4 separate regions of the Homo sapiens genome follow, and all the other regions are linked to region 1. The links come from fine-mapping of genetic effects on gene expression. A gene starts in region 1. Each other region holds a variant in brackets. All regions are shown on one strand. Distances are between the middles of the regions. Region 1 holds the start of PHLDB2 (pleckstrin homology like domain family B member 2). Region 2 has its middle 82 kb from the start of PLCXD2-AS1. Region 3 overlaps LOC105374040 (a long non-coding RNA gene). Region 4 overlaps PHLDB2 (pleckstrin homology like domain family B member 2).

Region 1 (7,418 bases):
CCTGGAGAGGCAAACAAGAAAGGTCTGCTGTTTAGTTTACAACACAATATCTCTAGTGATAAGGAATGGCAGAGCGCAGGCAGGACTCTGGTCTGTGATTAAACAGAAAACTTTATTATAAAGAACCCAGGAAATAGAAAAGGTAGAAAGACTCTCTCTTTCTTCCTTCCTTCCTTCCTTTCTTTCTTTCTCTCTCTCCCCCTCCCGCGCTTCCCTCTTTTTCCTTCCTTCCTTCCTCCCTTCTTTGCTTCCTTCCTTCTTTTCTTTCCTTTCTTTCTTCTTTCTTTCCATCACCATTACTAAAAGAAAGTCTGGTAATATAATAATAACAATAACAGTTGCACTTTATTGAGTGCTTTCTATAGATGTTGAGGTCTGCATTTGTCTTTTTTTTTTTTTTTTTTTTTTTTGGCGACAAGGTCTCACTCTGCCACCCAGGCTGGAGTGCAATGGTGCGATCATGGATCACCCAGCCTCGAATTCTCAGGTGATTCTCCCACCTCAGCCTCCTGAGTAGCTGGGACTACAGATGGTGCACCACCATGCCCGGCTAATATTTTTGTATTTTTAGTAGAGACGGGTTTTGCCATGTTGGCCAGGCTGCTCTGGAACTTCTAATCTCAAGCAATCCTGCTACCTCGGCTCCCAAGGTGTTGGGATTACAGGCATGAGCCATTGAGCCTGGACTGAATTTATCTAATTTAAGACTTGCACCTTCAGGGTGGTCTCGTCTATCTTCAGGCTGCTATGGCCTTATGAAAGCTATTGAAAACCACTCTAACTCATCAGGAATGGGAAACTTTGCTGGGTTTAGTCACTTGAAAAAGTCACATTCAATGACTACTTTTTGAGTCCCTTCCATATATAAGTCTTGGAGTATGATTCATACAAATATGAATAAAATGACTCCCTTTGCCTTCTAGGAGCTTGGCTATCCTAAGAGATAGAGATGCTAGCAGATAAAACAAGGCAGTGAAGGGAGGCCAGTGAGGATTACTTTTTGTCTAGTAATTTGGAATTATTCATTATACAGAAATATCCCCTAGTAACATTCATACTTAGAAAAGAGGTAGAAGGTAGCATTAAAGACAATGAACTCAAGAACAAGTGCTCAAATTCTGCCTCTACCAACTTATTACCTGAGTGACAACTGACTTCTCTGTGATTCCTTTTTTACTTATAAAATGGGAGTAGTAACAAACAGTAACTCTCACCGCATCAACTAATATTGTCCTATATTTGGAAGAATACCGGATACGTATACAATAGTAATTATTGCTCTCAATAAATTTAGCTATTTTTTTCTTAGACATAAATATTGGCAATCTAATTATGGCCATTCTAAATGTGCTGTGTTGGTGCACATTCTCCTTAGACCTGAAGGGAGAAAGGTTGTCTCTAAGATGTCTGTGTAGTCAAGTGTATTTCTGGCATTGCTCGAGGCAAGGAAATGTTTGCAACACAGTGCTTTGGGTCAAAGCCATCATTTATTCTTGAGCACCATTTACATGTCCGGTATCCTTGTAGGCACACTAGGGATATAGCACTGGAGAGAACAGGCAAAACTCTCTGCCTGCCTGCCTTACATTCTAGTGAGGAGAGACAGACAATAAACATAATTTAAAAAGTACATTTTACAATATAGTAGAATGTGGTGACTTTGTCAAAAAGTAAATTTAAGTAGTATGGAAAACACATTTTAAACTTTTAAGTAGAGTGGTCAGAGCAGGCCTGAGCAACACGGTGACATTGAACAGGGTCTTGAAGGAAGTGAGGGAGTGAACCATGCAGATACTTGGGAGGAGGGAATTATAGGCAGAGAGGGCAATTAGAACAAAGGCCCTGAGATAGAACGGATTTACCTAGGAATCTAGTCTACGAGGCCACTGTGGCAGGGGCTAAGTGAGTGATAAAGGGGAAGTAGGAGGCTGGGCACAGTGGCTCACACCTGTCATCCCAACACTTAGGGTGGCGGAGGCAGACAGATCGCTTGAGCCCAGGAGTTCAAGAACAGTCTGGGCAATGTGGTGAAACCCCATCTCTGCAAAAAATTCAATATTAGCTGGGCATGGTGGTCTGCACCTGTGGTCCCAGCTATTCAGGAGGCTGAAGTGGGAGGATCACTTGAGCCCAGGAGGTTAAGGCTGCAGTGAGCTATGACTGTGCCATTGCACTCCAACCTGGGTGACAAAGTGAGGCCCTGTCTCAAAAAAAAAAAAAAGAAAAGAAAAGAAAAAAAAATTCCAAGGTAATGGAAATAAAATGATTGTATGTTTATGGGGATGATCCAAAAAAGAGGAGGAAAGAGATGACGTGGGTGAGAAAAGAACATTGCTGGAGCACTTAACTGTTTAACTGTTGGATTGATCAGTGTATGTATGCTTCTGCAGGGCAAAAACTCAGGACAGGGAAAAGAATTCCTCTAAAAAACCCGGCATTCCTAACAAACATATGAAAAAAAGCTCATCATCACTAGTCATTACAGAAATGCAAATCAAAACCACAACGAGATACCATCTCACGCCAGTTAGAATGGCAATCATTAAAAAGTCAGGAAATAACAGACGCTGCAGAGAATGTGGAGAAATGGGAACGCTTTTACACTGTTGGTGGGAGTATAAGTTAGTTCAACCATTGTGGAAGACAGTGTGGCGATTCCTCAGGGATCTAGAACTAGAAATACCATTTGACCCAGCAATCCCATTACTGGGTATATACCCAAAGAATTATAAATCATTCTACTATAAAGACACATACAAACGTATGTTTATTGCAGCACTGTTCACAATAACAAAGACTTGGAACCAACCCAAGTGCCCATCAATGATAGACTGGATGAAGAAAATGTGGCACATATACACCATGGAATACCATGCAGCCATAAAAAAGAATGAATTCATGTCCTTTGCAGGGACGTGGATGATGCTGGAAACCATCATTCTCAGCAAACTAACACAGGAACAGAAAACCAAACACTGCATGTTCTCATCATAAGTGGGAGTTGAACAATGAGAACATATGGACCCAGGGAGGGGAACATCACACCCTGAGGCCTGTTGGGGGGTGGGGGACAAGGGGAGGGAGAGCATTAGGACAAATAACTAATGCATGCGGAGCTTAAAACCTAGATGAAGGGTTGATGGGTGCTGCAAACCACCATGGCACATGTATACCTGTGTAACAAACCTGCACGTTCTGCACATGTATCCCAGAACTTAAAGTATAATTAAAAAAGAAATTTAAAAAAGACATTCCGTAGGTGAGGCTCTCCCTAAAAGTCAAACTTTTACTTGCACATATGAAAAGTGTAATCATTAAATAAGCTATTTCTTCAGTGACGGTATACTGAGTTCTGCTCATGGTGCCAAGTACTTTGCATATATTATTCAGAAGCTTATTAGCTGCCCTGCAGCACCAGTATCATTTATTGCTGCACTCCAGGTGAAGAAATTGTTGCTGGGAGCTACAACAACTTGCCCAAAGCCACAATGATCATAAGTAGTTTGCGCTTCGTTGTGCTCTTCTTTGCTGGTGTGAGATTCTCGAGGGCCAATGTCCTTCATCTGCGTAACTCTAGGGACTCGCCCAGACCTTGGAAGAGGTTCACATTCCCGCGTGCCGAGATTGATTATGGGCCACCCTCGGTCTCATTCGTTGACTTCCAATAAAGCATTGGCTGGTGGACCTCTACATCAGCATTGTTTTCATTGGATATAGCAACTCAGAAAAATATTGGGGAAAATATAAAAACTTTCAAGAGATATGATTGCAAGAAAATCAGAATGAGTTTAAAACCCTCCTGACCCCAGTCCTTAGCTCAGGCCGTTCTCCAAGGATTTTGCAAACCTGCTTTCTGACGCAGCTGGTAAACTTGCCCCGGGGCGAACTGTCGGAAGGAGGTGCGGTCACCTGGAGTTTCCCAATAGATACTTCGCTGTCTGGTGAGGAAATCATCACCCTAGGACGTAAACCCTCCCGCCCTTCTTTCAGCTCTTAAAAAAAGCCTGCCACGAAAGTCCCTACTGCGTTGCTGCGAACGTAGCTTTGAGAAGCTGGCGCCCAGTGATGGGGCAAACAGCCATGCCCTTCCAGCAGCCGTGAAAGCCCCAACAGCAAACTGCCTGGGAGCGGGGCAGGTCACCAACTTCGTTGCTCGAACTCCCTGGGTGCCCGCCGCGGTGGTTACAAAGGGGGTCAAGAGTGCCGGACCCAGCCGCGCGGAGCCCACCATTGCGGCCCGAGGGGGACCCGACGGGGGCCCGACGGTGTGGCGTGGCGCAAGGAGCGCGCCTGCCTTCTCTCGCCGCCGGGAACGGGCTGCACCAATGGCCAGGTGAGGAGGCGGCGGTGGTCGCCCGGGAGGAGGGGGTGGTGCCGACTCCGTGTGCCAGGAGTGCGTCCCGGGGACGCTGCCTCCCCCGCGGCCGAGTTGGTTGCCGCCGGTTGCGCTGCGGAGGGTTGGGGGCGGAGAGGAGGCAGTGGCTGCCCGGGCCGAGGAGGGGCGCGCTGACTGCTCACCGCGAGTCAGGAGGGGCCGGCGGGCTCACGGAGGGAGACAGGGTGGGCGGGGGCAAAGGCTAGGCGCTAGGGCGGCGGCGCCAGCGTAGAGCGGCGGTTTGGAGGAAAGATGAGACGGTGAGTGGGCTCCGGGGACACAGAGTTTCTTTGCTTCTTTACAGGCTGTAGGGACAAAAGCCCGGGCTGGGGTCGGCAGTGCCCAGGCTGCGCAGCTGGGTGGGTGGGGGTGGCGAACCCCGTTGTGCATGACTCTCGGGGGGCTGGGTAGATCTCCGGTTGAGGGGATCCCGGGGAGGGAGTGTCTGGTAGGGAAGATGCTTCCAGAGTGATTGTAGAAAACAGGCAGAATGTGGGGGAACTGGGGGCAACTTTTTCCAGCAACTCTGGAATGCACATGGAGAGAGGGATGGGGATCCTTGGGATAGCTCCCTGAGAAAGAGAAGGTCCGCTGCTGGATGGTGTAGGGCGCGGGATTCAGAGAAGACTCCCTCCCCGCAAATATTTGGCTAGCTGCGCTTCTAGTTCCACTTTCTTTCAAGAGTGAACCTACGAGCTTTAACCGCCAAAAGCGGCTGATTTCGATTTGGCCTTTGACCCCCCACTGAAAGTTTACAGTGTGGCCGTCTCGGCACCCCTAGAGATAGCAGCTGGAAGGCTTGGGGAGTATTTTAACCCTCTGTTTCTCCAGCTCCCTGCGCGGCGGAGGCGCAGCTGAATCGTTTGCTGGTTCGCTTAATAACTTAGCCCTAGCAGTCATCACTTATTAAAGCGCCGAGGACCTGGCTAACTCCCGCCACCACCAGGAAATTAAAAGGCTGACAGGCTGTCCCTCCCAGGGTTGGGGTTTCCTGTTTGAAAGAGCTTGAGAAGTCAAACTGCTTCGCGGTTCCTCACTTACCTTTCTTATGTAAAAGAGGGAGCGACGCCCGCAGCTTTTTCTCTCGGTAAACTACCCGTGGCTGGAAATCCTCCGGGCGCCTGGCCCTGCCCTCTTCCCTAGAAATCTTTATCCTGCAACTCTGAAGTAGCTCTAAAGAGCTCTAGAATGCACAACTAGTCATAGCCAGGCACAGCTGGGAGTGTAACTAGACGAGGCATAAAAATGTGGAGTCTTTTTAGTGTAAATATTTGTCAGCCACATTTCCCTTCGTAATATGAACGTGTAAGTTACAGATGTAGGTTTTCAAGTATTGGACGTGTAATTTTAAGCTTCCTAGTTTGGTTTAATTTGGGCGTTCGAGATATGTCTCTGGGATTCTAACGTTTGAATTCGGCTGGGAGAGATCTAAATGAGGTCCACAGTTTCAGAAGGTTAAACTTTTGCCCTGTGAACACTTGAATTCTTGGTTCCTGGTAGGTTAGCAACAGAACTGTCGGATTTGGGATAAATAAACCGTTAGAGTTGCCCACTATTTTAACAGAATGGCTATATCTCTCTTGCCGTTGCCTTCAATTGTGTAAATATTTGTTTGAATAAAGAGCGAAGGTTCTTTGAAAAGTAACAGTTCTGTCTATTCTTGGCTCCCCTTTCATATCCTCTGCTTAGTTATTTAAAAGGATTTTCTTTGCCTCTTACATTTAATGGGGAAATTTAAACATTACATGTACTTAAATTCTGTAAAGTTACCAAACCATTTATAACTGGCAAATTATTTAATGACAAGGAAGAGTTGAGTTTGTCGTCTTAGTTGGCTAATGTAGCCTTCATCTCTTGAGACCCAGAGGTTTGCAGATCTCAGCCTGTCAGAAGTGGAAAAATGAGATGTCTGGTTAAGAGTAGTCATCATTTCAGTCAATTTGCAGGCCTCAATCTGTTTTATGCAGCTGGCAGCTGCTGTTCTTTTGGTGTTGAGATCGTCTGCCACGAGTGTCGCCTGGATCCCTGTTTGAAAAGGGGAGGAAAAGATACTTGGGAAATTGGACTGAGAGCTTGCTTACTCCTCCGTTCAATAACTGTGACCAAGCTGAAACTCGTTAGCAACCTTTCCAGAAACGTTTTATTTACCATGTGTGTTTGTTGTGTATGCAAGAGAGGAAAAAATAAGCCAAAGTGATTAACCAATCTCTGGTTTTCCCTATTTTCTTCAAAGCTCCATTTTGAGATCTATAAGCAAGGGTTGACTCTCGAGTTCATTGGAGAAGTTACCTCGGCTCACTACAACTTCTGCCTCCTTGGTTCAAGCCATTTTCCTGCCTCAGCCTCCCGAGTAGCTGGGATTACAGGCGCCTGCCACCACACCTGGCTAATTTTTCTATTTTTAGTAGTGACAGGATTTTGCCATGTTGGTCAGGCTGGTCTCAAACTCTTAACCTCAGGTGATCCACCTGCCTTGGCCTCCCAAAGTACTGGGATTACAGGCATGAGCCACCACACCCGGTCTCCTTTTAAATATTTTTAAAGGAGTAGTTAACGTTATGGCTTTATATCCTGATTTTCAACCCTTAGCAGGGAGGCAGTGCTATGGTGCTGTGGATGGCTTAGAGTGACAGTGGCTTTGTACATTTTCTAGGTGGAGTACCTGTGCCTTATGAATCTATCTGTAAAGTCTTGGTGTACCAATTGTTGATTGTGTAAATGTCACTCTTTTGAAACAAAAACACCTAAGTGATGTGCTTTATCTTAAAGTCCTGACATACATTAGAGCTGTGGTTTTCACTGGGAGAGGGGTTTTGGCCCCCAGAGGATACTGGCAACGTATTTTTGGTTGTAGCAACTGACAGGAGGAGAGTGCTACTGCCATATAGTGGGTAGAGGCCTGGGATGCGGTTAAGCACCCTGCCATGCACGGGACACAAAAACAATTATGCAGCCCCAAACCCTGCACTACAGTATTGCCTGGGGGAGTAGGTTAACAAGATTAGGCATCTTAATCTGATTTGGATCCTCAAGAAACTTGTTT
Region 2 (7,418 bases), 99 kb before region 1:
TCTGTTCTTTTACATTTGCTGAGGAGAGCTTTTTACTTCCAACTATGTGGTCAATTTTGGAATAGGTGTGGTGTGGTGCTGAAAAAAATGTATATTCTGTTGATTTGGGGTGGAGAGTTCAGTAGATGTCTATTAGGTCCGCTTGGTGCAGAGCTGAGTTCAATTCCTGGGTATCCTTGTTAACTTTCTGTCTCGTTGATCTGTCTAATGTTGACAGTGGGGTGTTAAAGTCTCCCATTATTATTGTGTGGGAGTCTAAGTCTCTTTGTAGGTCACTCAGGACTTGCTTTATGAATCTGGGTGCTCCTGTATTGGGTGCATATATATTTAGGATAGTTAGCTCTTCTCGTTGAATTGATCCCTTTACCATTATGTAATGGCCTTGTCTCTTTTGATCTTTGTTGGTTTAAAGTCTTTTATCAGAGACTAGGATTGCAACCCCTGCCTTTTTTTGTTTTCCATTTGCTTGGTAGATCTTCCTCCATCCTTTTATTTTGAGCCTATGTGTGTCTCTGCACGTGAGATGGATTTACTGCATACAGCACACTGATGGGTCTTGACTCTTTATCCAATTTGCCAGTCTGTGTCTTTTAATTGGAGCATTTAGTCCATTTACATTTAAAGTTAATATTGTTATGTGTGAATTTGATCCTGTCATTATGATGTTAGCTGGTTATTTTGCTCGTTAGTGGATGCAGTTTCTTCCTAGCCTCGATGGTCTTTACAATTTGGCATGATTTTGCAGTGGCTGGTACCTGTTGTTCCTTTCCATGTTTAGTGCTTCCTTCAGGAGCTCTTTTAGGGCAGGCCTGGTGGTGACAAAATCTCTCAGCATTTGCTTGTCTGTAAAGTATTTTATTTCTCCTTCACTTATGAAGCTTAGTTTGGCTGGATATGAAATTCTGGGTTGAAAATTCTTTTCTTTAAGAATGTTGAATATTGGCCCCCACTCTCTTCTGGCTTGTAGAGTTTCTGGCTAGAGATCCACTGTTAGTCTGATGGGCTTCCCTTTGTGGGTAACCTGACCTTTCTCTCTGGCTGCCCTTAACATTTTTTCCTTCATTTCAACTTTGGTGAATCTGACAATTAAGTGTCTTGGAGTTGCTCTTCTCGAGGAGTATCTTTGTGGAGTTCTCTGTATTTCCTTAATCTGAATGTTGGCCTGCCTTGCTAGACTGGGGAAGTTCTCCTGTATAATATCCTGCAGAGTGTTTTCCAACTTGGTTCCATTCTCCCTGTCACTTTCAGGTACACCAATCAGATGTAGATTTGGTCTTTTCACATAGTCTCATATTTCTGGGAGGCTTTGTTCGTTTCTTTTTATTCTTTTTTCTCTAAACTTCCCTTCTCGCTTCATTTCATTCATTTCATGAATGGAGCTTTCAGCTCCATCAGCTCCTTTAAGCACTTCTCTGTATTGGTTATTCTAGTTACACATTTGTCTAAATTTTTTTCAAAGTTTTCAACTTCTTCGCCTTTGGTTTGAATTTCCTCCTGTAGCTCGGAGTAGTTTGATCGTCTGAAGCCTTCTTCTCTCAACTGGTCAAAGTCATTCTCCATCCAGCTTTGTTCCGTTGCTGGTGAGGAGCTGCGTTCCTCTGGAGGAGGAGAGGCACTCTGCTTTTTAGAGTTTCCAGTTTTTCTGCTCTGTTTTTTCCCCATCTTTGTGGTTTTATCTACTTTTTGTCTTCGATGTTGGTGATGTACAGATGGGTTTTTGGTGTGGATGTCCTTTCTGTTTGTTAGTTTTCCTTCTAACAGACAGGTTAACAGCTGACAACAGGTCTAACAACAGACCTCAGCTGCAGGTCTGTTGGAGTTTGCTAGAAGTCCACTCCAGACACTGTTTGCCTCGGTATCTGCAGCGGTGGCTGCAGAAGAGTGAATTTTCGTGAACCGCGAATGCTGCTGTCTGATCGTTCCTCTGGAAGTTTTGTCTCAGAGGAGTACCCGGCCGTGTGAGGTGTCAGTCTGCCCCTACTGGGGGGTGCCTCCCAGTTAGGCTGCTCAGGGGTCAGGGGCCAGGGACCCACTTGAGGAGGCAGTCTGCCCGTTCTCAGATCTCCAGCTGCGTGCTGGGAGAACCACTGCTCTCTTCAAAGCTGTCAGACAGGGACATTTAACTCTGCAGAGGTTACTGCTGTCTTTTTGTTTGTCTGTGCCCTGCCCCTAGAGGTGGAGCCTATAGAGGCAGGCAGGCCTCCTTGAGCTGTGGTGGGCTCCACCCAGTTCGAGCTTCCCGCCTGCTTTGTTTACCTAAGCAACCCTGGGCAATGGTGGGTGCCCCTCCCCCAGCCTCGCTGCCACCTTGCAGTTTGATCTCAGACTGCTGTGCTAGCAATCAGCAAGACTCTGTGGGCATAGGACCCTCCGAGCCATGTGCGGGATATAATCTCCTGGTGCGCTGTTTTTTAAGCTCGTCGGAAAAGCGCAGTATTAGGGTGGGAGTGACCCGATTTTCCAGGTGCCATCTGTCACCCCTTTCTTTGACTAGGAAAGGGAACTGCCTGGTCCCTTGCACTTCCCGAGTGAGGCAATGCCTCGCCCTGCTTCAGCTGGTGCAGTGTGCGCGCACCCACTGACCTGCGCCCACTGTCTGGCACTCCCTAGTGAGATGAACCCGGTACCTCAGATGGAAATGCAGAAATCACCCATCTTCTGTGTGGCTCACGCTGGGAGCTGCAGACTGGAGCTGTTCCTATTCGGCCATCTTGGCTCGACCACAAAAAAATTTCAAGTGCATCTATTTTGCTGTTAATATAGCTTGAAGAACCCATGGCTTGACATGTTTCATAGGATTGCAGCCATGGGAGGGGTGAGTCATCAACCACGATAAACTCATGAAGATGGTTTTATAAGCTACTAGATGCGGCACAGACAGAGACAACAAGCTATGTTTTGCTAATGGGTCCTATCAATATGGGGCCCAGGCCATCTTTAGCCTATAAGCTTCATCCCAGAAACTAGGAGTCAGTCAGTAGAGTTTACTGTGATATTTTAAGGAAGAAAGGAGAAAAATGACTGCTCTTCAGAGCTGATTAGAGTAAAAATGTAATTATATATGTGCATAAATATCCTAGTGATATATCTTTTTTTTTTTTCAATGATTGTCTTAGTCCACTCAGGCTGTTGTAACAAAATACCATAAACTAGGTAGCTTATGAACAACAGAAACTTATTTCTCACCATTCTGGAGGCTGGAAAGGCCACAATTAAGACACCAGCAGATTTGGTATCAAGTGGGGATCCACTTTCTGGTTCGTAGATGGTGCCTTCTCACTGTGTCCTCACATGGTGGAAGGACAAACTAGCTCTCTGGGGTTTCTTTTGTAAGGGTACCAATCCTATTCATGAGAGTTTCAGCCTTACCCAAAGGCTCCTTCTCCTAATGCTGTCACATTGGTGATTAGGTTTCAATTTATGAATTTTGAGGAGACACCAACATTTAGACCACAACA[T/C]TGAGATTTTATATATATTTACATGTATATATACACACACACATATGTATGTATGTATATCCCGTGTGTGTGTATGCATGCACAGTGAGGAATATATGTTTAGCATGTAAAGTTACTCTTTGCACCAAATGGTTTCAAGACAGCAAAATAATATAACACCTACTAAAGGCCAGGTAATTGGACATTATCCAAATCAGTCATCATGCAACCCTATAAGGTGGAAATTTTTATCCCCAATTTATAAGTGAGCAAACAAATCTCAGATTAAGTAATTTGTCTAAGGGCACACAGCTTACAAGAGATGACGTCAGATTTTGGATTTGAGTTTCTCTCTTTCCAAATTTTTTATTCTTAATCAATAGGCTATAATTGGGTGACAATCAAGAGTTCGTTGGGAATATTGTTGGTTCATAATAGCAACAATATGCAGTTTGTAGGACAAGAGGCTTTAAGGGCAGAGATCTAAATGTATCTGTCAAACAGAGAAAGCCATGTGAAGTTTCTGTGTCTTCATGCCTCTGTATTGGATTCAGGCTGTAGCCACAATACTTATGCAAAAGCATTTCAGGGGAGACATTGCTAGGCAATCTTCACTTCCACTAGGTCAGAGTTTAATGCACATAATACTTCTTGCCTTCATGTGCATGTTGCTAACCCATATTCCTGACTGATATTCTTTCAGTATGTCCACAATGAATTAAAGTTAAGACCAGAGAGCAATATAAAGTGCTGAGCAAAACTCTTTTGAAATTCACAAACATTGTCCATCAGCAGAAACCATGTTTACATTTTTAAAATTCCTATTTTACCTTACGTGGACTGTAAGATGGAATCCAAAGATCCCTCAAACCAAAACTTAGTTTCAATGCATCTTTGTTGAGATAAAAAAAATTGTCCTACTCCAAAGATACTAAATACAGGTCTCATCAATAACCATAGCTTCCATTTTCTGTCAAAGTCAAATAAAATTTTCTACTATTTTTCAATTAGGAAAAGCAGCATTTCAGATAAAAAACTAGGCTTTTGTAACAAACTAGCAAAGTTGGAGTTCTTTTTATTGAAATTTATGTTTACATGGTTATTAAAAGGTTTGTGTTGGACTGCGGGACTCATCTTACTCTGGCTTCTGGGGAGTGAACTAGAAGGCAGAAAACGTGTTCTGTTTTCTTGCTTCTGCGATGTGTATACAGTTTTTTGTTTGTTTTTTTTTTCCTGAGAGCCACGTGGGACTGGTGAGGCTGAGAAGCAAAATTTGAATCAGAGCTTAGATTAAAAAACTGAAGCAATAATTTTCTCCATTTTCAGTTTTAGTTGTTTTATCTTTTGTGATAAATTGTAGGTGAGAAGTTTGGGAGAGGGGCCAGGATGCTACTTAGTTCATTCATAGCACTGCTTGGAACCTTTAGAACTAAGTCGGCCAGGTGTGGTGGCTCACGCCTGTAATCCCAGCACTATGGGAGGCCGAGGCGGGTGGATCACGAGGTCAGGTGATTGAGACCATCCTGGCCAACATGGTGAAACCCCGTCTCTACTAAAAATACAAAAATTATCTGCGCGTGGTGGTGCGTGCTTGTAGTCCCAGCTACTAGGGAGGCTGAGGAAGGAGAATCACCTGAACCCCGGAGGTGGAGGTTGCAGTGAGCTAAGGTGGCACCACTGCACCCCAGCCTAGCGACAGAGTGAGACTCCATCTCAAAAAAAAAAAAAAAGAAAAAAAAAACTAAACACATTTGAATACTAATCCCAGCTTTGTGATCCTCCTATTCCACCTAGAACTACAGTGTTATTCAATTTTTTTGCTTCTGTCATGAAGATAATTTGAAGCTAATCATCCACAATGGGAAATGAGCAAGTGGTTCCAAAAGCAGAAGTGGGTATGGGTACACATGGGAGTGTATAAAGCTCAAAGTCTCCTTATACACGGCATTGATTCAGAAAGGAACTGACACTGTTGATGAAATTTATCACACAAGATGGGACGTGAACAAATCCTTCATCCTAAAAAGGCAGAAACTCAGAAGAGAATGACTAGGGAGAATGAGTCACTAGCAGCTGTTAAGAATCATAGTTAGATCTCTATTCCTGATTTAACTCTCTGCTTTATCTACCCCAGAGGCCAGTCGTTCTCAAACTTCAGCTGCATTCAGATCACTTCAAGGGCTTGTTAAAACAGGATTGCTGATCTACACACCCAGAATTTCTGATTCAGTACATGTGGGTGGGGCAAGAGAATTTTTAGCTCTAACAAGTTCCCAGGTGATGCTGGTCGGGGATACCACACCATAAGACCCACTGCTTTAGGCAATACCGGTTTCAGAATTGAGCCACAGAGGCCATGACTGGTTTATTTACCTGGAAAACCAGCCCAACATTTTTTTTTAATAGCAGAAAAAGCATACAAATTTATTTAATGTGTATACATAAGAAGAATTACAGAGTAATTACCCCCAGCCTGACATTTCCTTAAAATAGGTGCTTGTATGTTCACCTAAAAGGGGCACTGCTAAAAGAGAGGATGAGGGGTCAGAGGAACACATTTTATCCAAAAAGGGATGCCCCCCCAATCCCATCCGCCACATTCAGCTGAGAACCAGACCAGCGTCTTAGCTATTAGTTCATTGCATGGGTTTTGGTGCCAGACTAGACTTAGATTTGAGATCCAAGTCTACTACCTAAGGTGATAAACTTAAGTCAGTCACTTACTTTTCTAAACTGCAGTACTGGAAGGATAACACAATTGATCTCAGAGGACTGTTGTGAAGTTTAAAGAAGATAATGTTTAGGAAGCTTTAACACAATAGCTCATGTATAGTAAGGCCTCAATAAATGCTAACTATATGTATTATTTAATTATATAACTAGCATTACCATATTATTATTATATAGCCAATATGTGTAATGTTTTGACACTGTCAATAAATTTTGAGGTGTTTATCCCATTTTCAGATATTGGAAACTAAGGCACAGAAGGGTTAAGTACCTTGCCCAAGGGCATCCTAGGGAGCGCTCTGAAGTTATGCCTTGTGATGCCACAATTATCATCATTCTAATCACAGGCCTCTAAGTGTGATCTGATCCAGACCTTCCACCCAGCCCTCCCAAGAACCTGGCCACACTCGTCAGGATTAAAGGAGGAGGTATTATTTCTTCAAGCCCTCCTGGAGTCTCTCTTGGCCTTTTTTGGCTCACATACTGCTGTACGTAGTTTGTGTCTGAAATGGAAAATTTCTGTAACACAATACCCAGCTCTGATCCCCACAGACTCTCAAATAATCTTTCTCTTTTTTTTCTTTTGGTTTGGGTTAAAATATGACTTCATGTGCAAAAAAGAAGCCTCATTTCCCAGCACTCTCAGCAGATTCATAAACATTGCAGACTCAAAGCCCTCTGGTTCCTAAGAGTTCCAAAGAATTAATTCTCCTTTTTTGAAAAAGGAGAGCAATGACTAAGAAGTGAGAAGAGAAATGGAAAGATTAAAACTAGCTGCCTGTTTGGTGCAGGGTATATAGCTCTGAGAGCCCACCCTCTTCTGCACCTGCAAGAATCCTTGCATGTCTCCCAGCACTTCTACAGGCAGCCCCAAGGAAAGGCAGGGAGCCATAGCTGCACTGAGCTTTATGATCCTGCCTGAAAGTGAGTATGTTAGGAAACTGGACAATGCAAATCAAGGATTTTAGGTATTTGATTCATTGACTCCCTAGCATTCTTCTCCCCTGGAGAGTCAACTCTTCACACACTGTTTATGCTGTGTGAACAATACAGTGAATTTCCCTTGAGTGAGTTATTTCTATGACAAGTTACTCTAACATAATAGCGAACTGCAAACTGCACAGGGCTTTGGAGCCCAACTGTTTGACTTTCATTTCCACCTCTACCACTTTCTAGCTGGGTGACCTAGGGCAATTTACTCACACTCTTCATGTTTTAGTTCGCTCATCTGTAAGTGGGACTTGTCATCAA
Region 3 (7,418 bases), 21 kb before region 1:
TCAGATGACTATATATATAGTCATCTGATTTTTATATATATGTGTGTATATATATACACACATATAGCTTTACAACTTGCTCTTTTCACTTACAACTTATCATTCAGGTCAGTTTATCTAGATTTACCTCATTTTCATATCATTTGATTGTATGAACATATAGTAGTCTACTTAACCATGACCTTACTGATGGTATTATAGTTTCTCAACACTGTGTTATCACAAACAAGGATGCAGTAAATATCTCTGACATATAACTTTAAGTACTCTTGCCCTCATTTCTTTATAAGACAAATTTTTAGAAGTGAAATTGTTGAATCATAGGGGATCCTTTAATAAATGCTGCCAAATTATTGAGACCAATTTTGGACTTGCTTTTCTTATTTTAACTTTTTCCTTGGTAGACTCAAACCCAGCCAATCAAAGACTATGGAAATTTCCTTTGTAATATCATCCTGCAATTTATTCCTGACCTGATATCCCCTTGGCTATATTTTTAAGTCTTTTTTAGACCCTAACATTCTTGGACACTGACTTTAGCTTCGGAACTGGTTTTTATATATCCTTTCTACACATTATTGCCATAGTAATCTTCTCAAACCTTGCCTTATGCATATCACACCTTTGTAATTTTCCATGAGTCCCTAATGCCTAAAAAAGGAACCTTAACTATGCTTCAAGATCCCTCACAATCAGGCTACAATCCTTCTCATTTTGTCCCAAAATTTAAGAGAGAATGAGAGAGAGATTTACCATGAGCCTCTCATTCTTAGGCACTTGCACATGCCTTAAATATTTAATCCTTATATCAGTTTCAGAGTTTAATGATATTTTTATTACCATAAAAATATAGAAACTGATGGATTGGGGAAGAAACTTGCTTCCCATCACACAGCTGTAGCATCTAGAGCTGTGGTTTGTGTAGTATATCTGACTGCTAAGGTCATGTACTTAACTATCAAGCCATATTTCAACTCAATTTAGCAAATATTTATTCAACATATACTACATGCAAAGTACTTTATTAAGTGTTACAGAGATTTAAAAATGTGAAACGGATGGCACACAATTGACACTTAATAATGGTGCCTGCTTCCCCAGCAGCAGCTCCTTCCAGGTAGCTATACTTTATGCCATGTGACTCTGCCTCTGTCAATAGCTGGTGAAAATAATGGTAGGCACCTGTTCCCACTGTCGATTGCAGTGTAACAGACACCCCAAAACTCAGCGGCTTAAAACAATGACAGTATTTATGCTGCTCCAACTCTGCAATTTAGCTAAGGTTCAGAGAGAACATCTTGTCTCTGCTTCACTCAGCATCAGCTGGGGACACGAAAAGGATAGGACTAGGAATCATCTGAAATCTTACTCACTTGTCTGGAGGTTGGTGCTTGCTGTCAGCTGGGTCCTCAGCAGGAGCTGTCACCAGGAACACCTTACATAGTGACCCCATGTAGTCTTTCCTCTTCCTCACGACTCAGGGCCTAGGTTCCAAGGGCTAGCTTCTCCGAAGGGCCAGGAAGAAGTTGTCTGCCTTTTAGAGCTTAGCCTTGAAAAGCACATAGCATAGCATCACTTCCACTAGTATTTACAGGCCCATCCAGATCCAAGGGGAGAAATGTAGACCCCACCTCATGATGGAGGGCTGCCAATGTCACATGGTGGCATGAGCATGTAAGCCAGTGGGGCCATTTTTGTAATACAATCTGCCACAGCACCTACAGACATGCCAATGTCCTTTCAGAGAAAGATAATCCAACAACCAAATTCTTTTTCAATGATATGACTTAAGAACAACTTACAGAATAAAACAGCTGCTGGAGACTAATCTGAAAGGACAAAATGCAGAAAGAGAAGAAAGTGGCCATGATGAAGCATGTGTTCACTGAAGTTATGAGCCAAACGGAAGTCAGGAATAAGAAGCCCTGTTCACCTTTAAGTCCCCAACAGAGCACAGTGCCAAATGCATGGTAAGTGCTCACAGTTGTCATATGAAGAAATTCATGAATGCTGGAAAGAGGGAAAACAAAAGGAAGGGTAAGTTTGGAAAGGGAAGATGAGATTCTACAGAGATATGTTAAGTTTGAGAATCCAGTTCTAGCTCCTCACTGACGTGTCTAACAAGCAGTTAGGGATGTAGATCTGTAGCTCAGAAGAGAGAGCAAGCATTAGGGACAGGGCTTAGGAAGCCATGAACAAGGGAAGCTTTGGCTTTGAATAAGATTACCAAAGAATCTCGTATTAGTCCATTTTCACATGCTATAAAGAACCACCGGAGTCTGGGCAATTTATAAAGGAAAAAGATTTAATTGACTTACAGTTCCACATGGCTGAGGAGGCCTCAGGGACCTTACAATTGTGGCAAAAAGTGAAGGGGAAGCAAGGCACATCTTACATGGTGACAGGAGGTGAGGGGGACTGCCAAAAACTTTTAAACCATCAGACCTCATGAAAACTTACTATCAGGAGAACAGCAAGAGTGGACCACCCCGATGATCCAATCATCTCCCACCAGGTCCCTCCCTTGACACATGGGGATGACAATTCGAGATGAGATTTGGGTGGGACACAGAGCCAAACCATATCAAATCTACATTATTCAGGTGGAATAATGAAGTGGTTAACATTATAGACTTTGAATCTGAGAACCTGGATTTAGTGTCTGTAATACCTGCTTCACCACTTACTGTGAGTTTTCTTAGGTTTAGTTGTTTAATATCTCTGTACCTCAGTATCCTGTTATAACATTGTTATAGTAATGAAACTACCTCAGAGGGCTGTGTATTAAGGGGTATAATGCCTGCAAAGTGCTTAGAACACAGTCTGCATAGAGTAAGAAATCAGTGCACATTTGTTACCATAACTGTTATCGGTTTTTAAAAAATATCTAAAGTTTAGGAATGAACAGAGGAAGAGCCAGAGAATACTAGGCAGGAAGTTCTTACGCAACCTTGTACAATATTCCTTATAAAAGTTTGAAGTTACATTCATTCCTGAGTTGCCTAACATCAAACAGTTGATCTATTAATAAAGAGGGGGTGGCATGGAGAAGAGTGTGTTCTATATCAATCTCTCTCAAAGTCGTGCTCTTTGGGGTGCATAGTAATTTCTGTTGTGTCAAAAAAAGTGTGTGCTGTACTCAAATAAATCTGAGAAATGCTGGATTACACAAAATTAAGTAGATGTTTCCTCAGACCCTATACTAAATGCATATACTAATATGTCCCATGGCTTGCTAAGGAGGGGCTATAGAATGCATCATTTCCAAAACTCCTTAGTTTTTTTATGGGATCATTCTGTTAAACTGACATTCTGTGGGACACAATTTCTCAAAGCTAATCAAGGTTAGTATTAAGCTTACTACAGAAGACTTTCTTTGGAAACTTCTTACAAATACATATTACTGAACCTGGCCGGGCACGGTGGTTCACACCTGTAATTTCAGGACTGTGGAAGGCCAAGGCAGGAGGATAACTTGAAGCCAGGAGTT[T/C]GAGACCAGCCTGGTCAACATGGCAAAATCTCTTCTCTACTACAAATACAAAAATTAGCCAGGCATAGTGATGCACGCCTGTAATCTCAGCTACTCGGGAACTGCAGCATGAGAATCACTTGAACCCGGGAGGTGGAGGTTGCAGTAAGCTGAGATCGTCCCACCGCACTCCAGCCTGGGTGACAGAGGGAGACTCTGTCTCAAAAATAACAACAACAACAACAACAACAACAAACACACATTACTGAACCTACCAACACAGATTCTGATTCAGAAAGTCTAGAGTGCGGGTAAGGTACCTGTAATTTTATTTTTATTTATGTATTTGTTTGCATGTTTGTTTTAGAGACAGGTTCTCGCTATGTTGCCCAGGCTTGTCGCAAACTCCTGGGCTCAAGCAGTCTTCCCGCCTTTATCTCCTGATCGGCTGGGACTATAGGCACCTGCCACCACTCCTACCCAGGAACCTGTATGTTTAAAAAGTTCCTCAGTACGCTCTTGCCTCTGGCAACCTAGAAGAGGAATTTGACCCTGCCCACAATCCCTCTTTCCCTTTCCAAACTGTTCTCAGAAAAGCAGCTCTACAAGAATGATAGCAAATCCAATAATGTATCTGGGTTGATTTCCCAGAAATTCATCAAACCAGCACAGCATGGAAGTTACTTATATACCTATTATACTTTCAGAACCCTTCAGACAGTCAACATGGATGAAGGCTAATAATTTGATTACCATAAAAATATAACTAGGAAAAAATAGTTGTAGGCTTTACATATAAAGAAATTTGAACTACAGCCCCACAGAATTAGTGACAATCTGAATTTCCAACAGAACTTTGAGGCAGAGTCAGATTAGAATATTTTTTAAAACTTGCTTAGAATTAATATCTAACAAAATGAGGATAGTTGTGTTCTCGGTATTATCTGTTTAAAATTTAATCTAAGAATAGACTCTGAGATTTTCTTGAAGAGCAGTTAGTGCTGAGCATATACTGACCTAAGAACAGATACACTTCTAAATCTAATTTAGGAGAATCATTTTGGAAATAAGACAATTTTTTTCTTGTGAACATTCTATCTAGGAAGAATTCAGCAGAATGAATATTCATCATTTAACATATTTCTATTTTTATAGTCTGCTTCAAAACTTTTATAGTAAAAATAAGATAAAAGTATAGAATCACTTCCAGATTTCTCTACACACTCAAGCAATTATTCATTTTATATGTCTGGCAGGATGGGTTTGATTGTGGTCACCCTCTTTGTCTCTTCCATTACCCCTGGTACTGAGAGGGTGCAAGTGAGGATAAATTAGCCAAGAGGCCACCCACACTGAGCTCTTCCAGACTGAAACAAACAAACAAACAAACAAAAACATTAGAGTCAGAAAAACTAAATATAACACATGTTCCTAGATTGCATTCTATAAAGAATATTATTGGGATAATTAACTAACTTGAACAGAGTTTGTGAATTTAATGTTAGTGTCAATGACAATGTCCTGATTTTGATTCTTGTGTATTGGTTATCTGAAAAATGCCCTTCTTGGAAGAGTTACACATTATTCAACAGTGATGCGCTCTCTGTTCACAATGTACTCTCAAGTAGCTCCAGAAAAAAAATGTTCTTTGTGCTATTCTTGCAGCTTTTAACATTTGAAGTTATTTTAAAATTAACATTATCTTTAGCATTTTAAAAAGATAAAGTTGATTTTATGGCCTGTGAGTTTATCATTGATTTTCTCAGATTCTCTGGGTAAACTATATCAACTGTAAATAGTTTTATTTCTTCTTTTCCATTTCCTGTGAATCGATTTTTTTCTTTTTTAATTGTGTTGGTTATAATCTCTAGGAAAAAAATGTTCAATAGATGGAGAGAGAGTAAGCATCCTTACCTTTTTGTAATCTCAGTGGAAATACCTCTAGTATTTTCTGACTAAACATAACACCGGCTTTAGGACCGAGGTATAGAAAAATATGCATTATCATTTCTCAGCCTTATGGCTAAGATCAAGTGTAGAAAATATGCCTCAATTTCTATTTTCTTGAGTGTTTTTATCAGGAATAGGAATTGAGTTTTGTTTAAAAGCCCCCCACCCCCGCTTTTTTTTTTTTTTTTTTTTTTTTGCGCCAAGTGTGGTGGCTCATGCCTGTAATCCCAGCACTTCGGGAGGCTGAGGCAGCAGAATTGCTTGAGACAAGGAGTTTAAGACCAACCTAGGCAAAATAGTGAGGCCCCATTTCTAACAAATCAAAATAAAAATATTAGCCAGGTAGAGTGGTACATGCCTGTAGTCCTACCTGCTTGGAAGACTGAGGCAGAAGAATTGCTTGAGCCCAGGAGGTTGAGGCTGCAATGAGCTATGATTGCACCACTGCACTCCAGCCTGGGTGACAGTGAGACCCTGTCTCCAAAAAAAATTTGTTTAATAAAATAAAATTAAAAGAATTTTAAAAAGCCTTTTCCCCAACTGAGGATAATATACAATTAATCTTCTTATATCTACTAATATAGTATTTAAATTAATAGATTTCCTCATATTGAATCATCCTTGCATTCCAGAAATAAATCCTACCTGGTCATGGTATATTTTCTTAATGTGGTGTTTGGATTCTGTTTTCTAATATTTACTCTAGCATTTTTGCATTGATATTGGATAATGGCTTGTAGTCTTGTTTACACATTAGAGTCATTTTCCTCCATACCACTTTTAGGAGAACAGTTTCCATGAAAGGGAGCTTGATGATAACAGAAAAGATAAAGAGACAATCTAACACAGAAATAGACCTGTCTTAGGGCCACATAAATTAAGGGGAGGTTGCTGACTCCTCTCTTACTGACTAGGTGACCTTAGAGAAGTTATTCCTCCTCTTCTGCCCTCAATTTTCTTGCCTATCAATTAGACGAACCTACTCAAAAGATTGTGTGAGAATAAAATGACAAGATGTCTATACAGACTTCAGTACAATGCCTGACACAATGTAAGCTCACGTAAACACTGGTATACCCTATTTTATTAAAAAGAACTACTTTTCTTCTACTGCCTCTCACATTATAATAATGCATAAAGACATATGTGGACAGATGTCATAGTTTCATCAGCAGGCAGATAGTCCCCAATACCATTTTGTCATGATTACCAGGCCACAGAGGAGTTTAGGCAGCTAATCTAGGGAGCTAGGTTTGTATTTTTTCTCTTCTTTTATAGTTACTCCATTCCAGACTAGAAGTTTGAATTTATAATTTTATTTAATTAATTAATTTTGTGTATTTATTTTTGAGACGGAGTCTCACTCTGTCGCCCAGGCTGGAGTGCAATGGCGTGATCTTGGCTCACTGCAACCTCTGCCTCCCAGGTTAAAGCGATTCTCATCCCTCAGCCTCCTGAGTAGCTGGGACTACAGGCACCCGCCATCACACCCAGCTAATTTTTAGCTGTATTTTTAGTAGAGAAGGGGTTTGAATTTAAACAGTGAGCTTTTCATGGTTATTGAGTAGGAGTAGGAGGAGGGGGGAACTGTAAAGGAATGAAAAAGGAAGAGGAAACTTCTTGAACCCCTCCTACATACCAGGAACTAATTTAGGTATATCTGCAGTTATTATGTGAGGAAAGGTGGAAGGTTGCATCAAGATTGTAGAACTCCAGAACCACCTTGACAGGTGAATGAGTATGGGCATTGTCTCTCTATCTAACAGTTGAGATCAACTTTTGTTCTTTTCTTCTCACTCATAACCTCTTCAAATAGAATAAAGAGATGCGTTTTCTCTGGGTTGGGCTCTCAGTTACTCTGGCTGTAAGTGCTCTGAACATCAGGAAATCACTCTGTACAGGGTGTCAGCTGGGCTTCTAAGACTCCTGCGTGTGGAGGAGTTAAGGAGAGTGAACATTTATCAATACATTTATTCCACAACATTTTTATTATGAATGT
Region 4 (7,418 bases), 51 kb after region 1:
GTAATCTGCACATAACAAATGTTGGTCAGTTAGTGGCTGTCACATTCTCCAATAACTTACAGTTGCCTCCAGAGCAGACACAGTCATACAAAGGCATTACACTTTTGTTTCCTCTTTCCAGCTCAGCCCTACTGATGGTGCACGCATACATGCACATGCTATTTAAACTAAGGGTGGCAGAGTAAAGTGTTTTCCTGACCACAAGCCTGAAGGCAGACTTCCCAGCCAGTGTATAAAATAAAATAATGTGTGGCTAAGAAGCTAGATATTGAACTGACTTCCATAAAGATAATTTGTAAAACCAAATGATAAAAACCCCTCACTTTTATATACAAATGAGATCATTTGTCCTAAACTGATAAAAACAATACTAAGGCAATGTTTGTGTAAATGTGAAAGCCAGTGAAAAGTCTGGAGAGCAGTGTCTCCACACAAGATTTTCCCCACATCTGACTCCAACCGCAAGTTCTGGGGTTTCCTAGACCACCCTCAGATTCGATAATTCACTAGAAAGACTCACAGAACCCATTGACAGCTATGATAAGCACAGTTACGATTCACTATAGGGAAAGGATACAGATAAAGATTAGCCAAAGAAAGACACACACGGGGCAGAGTCCAAAGAGTTCCAAAGGCAACACTTCCATGTCCTTTTCCTGTAGGTCAGAAAGTGTTACTCTACCAGCATTAAGCATTGGTAGGTGATAGTGTGCACATGACAGGGAGGCTTACCCAAGCTGTAGTACCCACAGGTTTTTTGTTTGTTTGTTTGTTTGTTTGTTTTTTGAGAGAGAGTCTTGCTTTGTTGCCCAAGTTGGAGTGTAGTAGCACGACTGGGCTCACTGCAACCTTTGCCTCCTGGGTTCAAGCAATTCTCCTTTCTCACCCTCCCAAGTAGCTGGGACTACAGGTGCCCACCACCGCTCCCAGCTGATTTTTGTATTTTTAGTAGATACAGGGTTTAACCATATTAGGCTGGTCTAAAACTCCTGACCTCTGGTGATCCACACGCCTCAACCTTCCAAAGTTTGGGGATTACAGGTGTGAGCCACCGTGGTCAGCTATTTTTTTCTGTTTTGTTTTTTTGAGACAGGGTCTCCCTCTGTCTCTCAGGCTGGAGTGCAGTGGTGCTATATCAGCTCATTGCAACCTCCGCCTCCTGGACTCAAGTGATCCTCCAGCCTTAGCCTTCCAAGTAGCTGAGAATACAGGCATGAGCCACCACGCCCAGGTAATTTTTGCATTTTTTGTAGAGATGGGGTTTTGCCATAGTTTTTATTGAGACTTCATCACATAAGCATTACTGATTGATCAGTTTCCCACATGGTTAATTTCAGTCTCCAGCTTGGCTGATAACCCATGACTTAAGGCTCCCACACTAAATCACATAATTGGTCTTTCTGGAGTGGCCAGCTTATACCCTAAGATTATCACATGTGGCCCACTCTACCCTAAACAAAGACACTGCAGCTGAGTATGACATAGATAATCTCCCAGAAGCCAATGGCAAAGGTCAGACCTCTCTTTGGGCGAAGACAAATTATTTATTACCCAATAAGTAACTGAGCTTTCTTTAGTAGGATCCCTGAGTCCCTCATCTCTAAGTTTTGGAAAAGTGTTCTGCCTGAAATTGCACATGGTTTATTAGTCATAATGTAGAAGTCCATTAGTAAAATTTAAAAAAAACTCCAAGTCTTAAATACAGGTCTGTTTCTTTCTTACACTCCAGGACTAGTGTGGGTTAAAAGAGGCCTCTGCTCCACGTTTCCTGATGGAGCCAACACCTGCAGCCAATCTGGAGAGCCACTCTGCCATGTTAGAGCAAGGCATGTGATGAATTATGCCCTGGCTGTTGTTCATGCAGAAGTGATACACCTTGCTTTTCACACTTCATTGGCCGGTACAAGTCTGAGGGCCATATCCAGTTTGAGGGTGAGGAAGAGAGGAGCCATCTTACCCTGTGTCCAGAAAGAGGTGAACTGATTGTAATAGCCCAGTTACTACCCTCAAGGATTTATCTCTAAAACAGACAGACCCGTATAACAGACTTTGAGCCATTGCTTCTGTTTTCCCTCCTTTCTGTCATTACCTAATTGAAACATCAGGATTTGTACATGGAATCCTGGGAAGTCTGCATACCTGCTGTCAGCACCAGCTTTTCTCATTCTACCACTCACTCAGACCAGGGTTCCTGACTCTTGTGGTTTCCAAAACTTACTTTAGGGCTGTTGTAATCCCTAAGAGGAAGAAATGTGACCCATTTTTGTGCAGGTACCTCATTCCTCTTCCCCCAAAAGACCCCATCTCTCTAGCCACATACTAGTTGCTGATCTCTGAGCATACCATGATATGCCACAGCTCTATGCCTTTGCTTCTGTGGTGCTTTTATGGAAATGCCCTGCCCACCCCACTGTCCCAGTAGAGCAGACAGACTCATATTTATCCTTGAGGACTCAAATTTGTTTTTCTGTAATTTTTGTGTACTGTTTACCCATCTGTGAACTCATAGGTGGTCTATAAACTTCTGTTATCACTGCTTTTATAAGTGATCACCTATTTGTGCCTCCTATTAAAGGTTTGAGGGTAGAAATGCTATGCTTTGCTATGTGCAGTGTCTCATGTGAGAGGCCAAGGTGAGAGGAAGATTGCTTGAGTCCAGGAGCTTGAGACCAGCCTGTGCAACATAGCAAGATGCCATCTTTCTTCCAAAAAATTAAAAAATTAACTGGGCAAGTTTGCATGCCTGGAGTCCCCGCTACTCTGGAGGCTGAGGTGGGAGGATCCCTTGAGCCCAGGAGATCGAGGCTTGCAGTGAGCTATGAGTGCACCACTGTGCTCCAGCCTGGGTGACATTGACAGACTTTGTCTCAGGAAAAAAAGAAAAAAATTTTCATCTTGCCATCTTTTTTCATTTATGGATCCCCAGCACGTTACTAGACAATAAGTAAGTTAGTAGACCTTTGTTGAACTGAAGATTATGGAGACATTGAAGTCCTGGGGCTAATAGAAGAGAGAAGTCAAGTCACACCAGTTATAATAGGTCCTCCTAAAAAAAAAAAAAATCCCATTTCAACTAAATTATATCTAAAAATTAAAGGTTGACCTTTTGTTTTAAGTAATACATGACCCAATATACTGGTTATAACAAAAGGTTTTTAGCAAAGATTACACCTGTGCTTAAGTGTCAGCAGTTGGTTTTCTGCATAATGTATGTATTTATGCAGTATGTGTACCGTCCTGTGACCTACACTGGTTGGTGTTAGTTACAAGGGCCCTTGGATGGGTTTAGGAGATGGATGTACCCTCTCCTGAGGGCTGTGAATCTGCAGTGGGAACAATGTCAGACACAGTCCTCTGAAGATGGAAAAAAGCTCAGAGGTCAAAAAACATACCCCTAGCCCATCACCATTTTTTCCCCTTTAACCTCTAAGTGAAAAATTGCACACAATTTTCTTTACGTATACTTTCTAAAATCTTGTGTCTCCTTCAACACTTCCTTTGATATATGTGGGAGATCAAGATGAAGAAAAGGAGAAATGGGAATGGCGAAAAAAATAAAAAATATATGTAAAATAATTTTATTCAAGATGACCTACTTTCTAAATTCTTAGCACTGATATTTTGGAGCATTAAGGTATGTAGGCTCTGTACTTGGACTTTTCAAGAGAATGAACACTAGATTCCTAGTTTGGAAAGGTGGGTAGGATTTGGAAATCTCAGAGGGCAGCCAGCCTCTTGACTTATTAAATAGCAGGTTGTTAGGTGAAGCTTCAAAGAAAGTTTGGTTTTAAGTAGGGGGACAGACATCACAGTTTGCCAGGACCAACCCCAGTTTGCATTTGAGGTTCCAGCATAATTATTAACAGTGCCCTCTTTGATTCTTGAGAGGTTCTGGTCTGGAATGGTCATTCTGGATTTGGGTCATGCAGGTTGCAGGCTATTGGCATGATGAATGGGAAGGAAGAAGACTCCAGAGTGCAGAAGGCTGAAGGGAGAATTATCTTAT[G/A]ACAGTAATTTCTGTTCAGAGTTTTCCTTAAAAGGCTTCCTGTAGTGCTTTCTGAAATGCCTTACAGACTTTCTTCTGATGCACCTTGGACATCAGTTTATTTTTCTTTAGTGCAGCTTTTATAGGGCCAGTGTGTCTCAGTGCAACCTGGTTTTCTTTTAAACTCGTGGGCAGCAGTGCTGCATGTGTCAGTGATTCAAACTTGAACAGATTGGCTGTGAATGGGGTGATAAGAATAGAGAGAAACACATACCAGTAGACCAAACTTCCTGTTCACAAGCCTTTGAATACTGCGTTTCACTGTCTGAAATAGCATTCATCTTAAGGCTGGGATCATTTATTCCCTTTGGAATTAAGCAATACCACTGCAGAAAAAGAAACTATTTTGGGAAGGCCATGTGGGAGGAATTTTTCTCTGTATTCCAGGCTGAACAGAAATATCTTTCATGCTTTTGAACACCACACCTTAGAGCCCAGGTAATTGGAAATGGACAACTTTCAGATAATCCCAAATATTTATGCCAAGGCTAATGTATACATGTTATACTACAAAGATTAGGAAAGACTTGAGTTTAGATGCTTCAACTTAATTACCTAAGTGGCAGAAAAAGAACTTTCCTTCAGAGATTCGCCTCTAATATAGATGCTATTGAGAAGTAAAATGTAACATCTTGTCCCTCTCCCTCTCCTTACATATGCTCTTGGAGGTTGTTTTTGCATATGCCCATGTAGACTTTTCCAGATTGTTGGAGAAGTTTAAAATAAGGCAATGAAGGCTATGTCCCCCCTGCTTCCTCCCTATAAAGCTGAGGTGGGCAGGGCTTGGCAGCTGGTGGAAACTGAAGAGATAAATAAGTACCAGGGCTCCTGGATGGATAGGGTGCAGAAGAGCCCAAGATGAGAGTGTGTAGCTATGAGTGCCTGCCGTGGGAAGAGGCCATGAGGACGGAGCTGCAGCTGGAGTCCAGAAGTTCAGGCAGTGAAAGGGAGGTGCGAGCTTGTAGGAACTAGTTTATTAGTCCTTTTGATCAAGCTATTGCTCTTTTGTTTTTTTTGTTGGGGGATTACTTTAGAGGGCAAATGTAAGTCAGATACACCTTAAATATCTGTCTTGTCATTTGAGTAATGTATTTAATGGAACCTAAGGAGTTATGTTGGTCTGTTCCTATTTGACTTTTCTACTTGTTAATAGCATCAACTAATAAAGAGCTAATTGTCTTGTAAAGTTTGTCTTTACAAATTAGCTGCAATTGAAATGAGAACAGCAGTCCAGTGATGCTTAATATTTTTCTGCTTTATTGCTGATAAGCAGTTTGGAAAATGTTTTTCTATGGAGAGCGTGTGAAGCCTCTTCTCAGTGTGGTAAATGTGATCACAATAGATGGTTTTTGTTTTTAGTTCTTTTTTCACTTTGGCCTTGGAATTAACATGAAAGGTAAAGATGTTGAGATTTCCTACCTCAAGCAATGCTGTCTAGGTTTATGAGAAGCAGAGAAGCATTTTGTAAATTATATCCTGTTGCTCACAAACTGTATAATTAACCTACTTAAAGTTCAAAATCATAGATATCTGCCTGTTGCATGGGGAGTCTGGTAAGATTGCAGTACTCTTATAGATATCAATGGCCTATGTATTGATTTTTAACAAATAAATTTTATTTTCTAGCTAAATTAATCAAAGATTTAATGACCTATGAATTTGAGTTACATCGGTGTGTATCTGGACTTCATGTGAAATGTTCTTCATTTTAGTGCAACATTCTATCTCTTTTATAATTTTAATTATATAAGAAATTAGTAGAGAAAGACCTTTATATGGTGACCAGGCATTAAAAAGTTTAGAAAATTTTCAAAATTTTCAAGAAAAAAAAATTGAAGACATAGGTCTTTTAAATTAAAAGATTCAGTAAGTAGCTGTTTTTCTCTTTGTGTGTCTAGCACATAGTCTAACAGTAGGATAATATTTAGGAAGTTAGAGAATTAGTTTTAAGCACAAGTATTAAGTCAGTAGTGATGAAAAAGCTAGATATTGTTGAAGGTAGATAAGTAGAGCCTGGGAAGGAGGATAGATAGGAAATGGAGGTTTAAAAAAAATGAATTTGGTGCAATGGCATGTGCCTGTAATCTCAGCAACTTTTGGGAGGCTGAGGCAGGAGGATCACTGGACCCCAGGAGTTAAATAAAGTGAGCTATGATTGTGCCACTGCACTCCAGCCTTTGGGACAGAGTAAGACCTTGTCTTTCTCCCTAACCCCACCCTTCAGAAACCTTGGAGAATTTATAAGTTATGAAAAGGCTTACTGAGTGCTGATGTGTGCTAGGGCCAGCCCTGTGATATACCAATAAAGGGGAGAGAGTAGAAGCCAGAATTGAGTTTGGGAGGAAAGTTGGGCATTGTTAAACCCCATTTCACCTGGATCTTTAAATGCATCCGTCAAAGATTATGAAAATCATCACCAGCCAAGTGTTTGTGGGTTTATGTATGGAATGCAAGCACCAGTTGTCCCAGCCTCTTCAGTCTTTTTATTTGGAGTAGTATTCATTCTCACAAACCCACTGACCTCCCCCTCCTCCCTGTGTTCCAGGAGAGACAGCGTCTGGAGACCATCCTCAGTCTCTGTGCTGAATACACAAAGCCTGACAGTCGCTTATCTACTGGGACCACCGTGGAAGATGTGCAGAAAATCAACAAGGAGCTTGAGAAGCTGCAGCTCTCTGATGAGGAGTCTGTGTTTGAGGAAGCCCTCATGAGCCCTGACACAAGATACAGGTGCCACCGGAAAGACTCCCTCCCTGATGCAGACTTGGCAAGCTGTGGGAGTCTCAGTCAGAGCAGTGCCAGCTTCTTTACCCCCAGGAGCACCAGGAATGATGAACTACTCAGTGACCTCACCCGGACTCCTCCACCACCATCCTCCACCTTTCCGAAAGCTTCCAGCGAGTCCTCTTATCTAAGTATCCTACCAAAGGTAATGTTGGCCCAGCAAAGATACTAGGATTTAAGGTCTAGGGCTGTGCATATGCTTTGGCATGAAAACTGATGATTTTATCATGCTAATTATCCAGGATGTTTTCAGTGAAATTTCAATTTAAGAGGTCATTAGCTGAGCGAGGTGCAGCAAATTAGGGTGTTTACTGTAAAGTAACAAATTTGCACTGTAAAAATTGTAGCAGCACAGAAGAGTAGAAAGAAAGCACATTTCTCTTCTCCCTGCACCCTTTCAGGTTGTACACCTGAGTGATAAGCAGGTGTAAAACTGGTGCTAAAATTGTCTTACCTGCCTTCCTAATATTTTCTGTGTATATATGGCTATCTGTTATAGGCATAGACAGACAGACACACACATAGTGTTCTGTACTTTTTTTCCCTCACTAAATGCCTTGGGTATCTTTGCATATTAGTATACATAGCT

Evidence for each region. PIP is the estimated chance that this variant, and not a neighbour inherited with it, causes the effect. A credible set is the group of variants that fine-mapping cannot tell apart.
Region 2: its variant is the best candidate, but not a certain one, in a credible set for the expression of PHLDB2 in tibial artery (GTEx, PIP 0.57).
Region 3: its variant is the best candidate, but not a certain one, in a credible set for the expression of PHLDB2 in whole blood (TOPMed, PIP 0.77).
Region 4: its variant is the best candidate, but not a certain one, in a credible set for the expression of PHLDB2 in whole blood (TOPMed, PIP 0.58).

The regions. Positions count from the first base shown.
Region 1 is chr3:111,855,244-111,862,661 of GRCh38, forward strand. PHLDB2 (pleckstrin homology like domain family B member 2) reads left to right here and starts at 4,022. Exons shown (of 18, transcript NM_001134438.2): 1 at 4,022-4,333. LOC105374040 (a long non-coding RNA gene) reads right to left here and starts at 5,573. Exons shown (of 4, transcript XR_924333.4): 1 at 5,417-5,573. RefSeq lists enhancers at 3,844-4,430, 4,431-5,015, 5,346-5,455 and a silencer at 4,480-4,539.
Region 2 is chr3:111,756,032-111,763,449 of GRCh38, forward strand. It overlaps a transcript of PHLDB2 not described here. Among named protein-coding and RNA genes, the nearest start is that of PLCXD2-AS1, 82 kb to the left of the region's middle. The variant T/C (reference allele first, on the strand shown) is at 3,459.
Region 3 is chr3:111,834,350-111,841,767 of GRCh38, forward strand. It overlaps LOC105374040 (a long non-coding RNA gene), which reads right to left. Exons shown (of 4, transcript XR_924333.4): 2 at 1,374-1,549. It also overlaps a transcript of PHLDB2 not described here. Among named protein-coding and RNA genes, the nearest start is that of PHLDB2, 21 kb to the right of the region's middle. The variant T/C (reference allele first, on the strand shown) is at 3,491.
Region 4 is chr3:111,906,729-111,914,146 of GRCh38, forward strand. PHLDB2 (pleckstrin homology like domain family B member 2) reads left to right here. Exons shown (of 18, transcript NM_001134438.2): 3 at 6,591-6,974. Among named protein-coding and RNA genes, the nearest start is that of PHLDB2, 51 kb to the left of the region's middle. The variant G/A (reference allele first, on the strand shown) is at 4,007.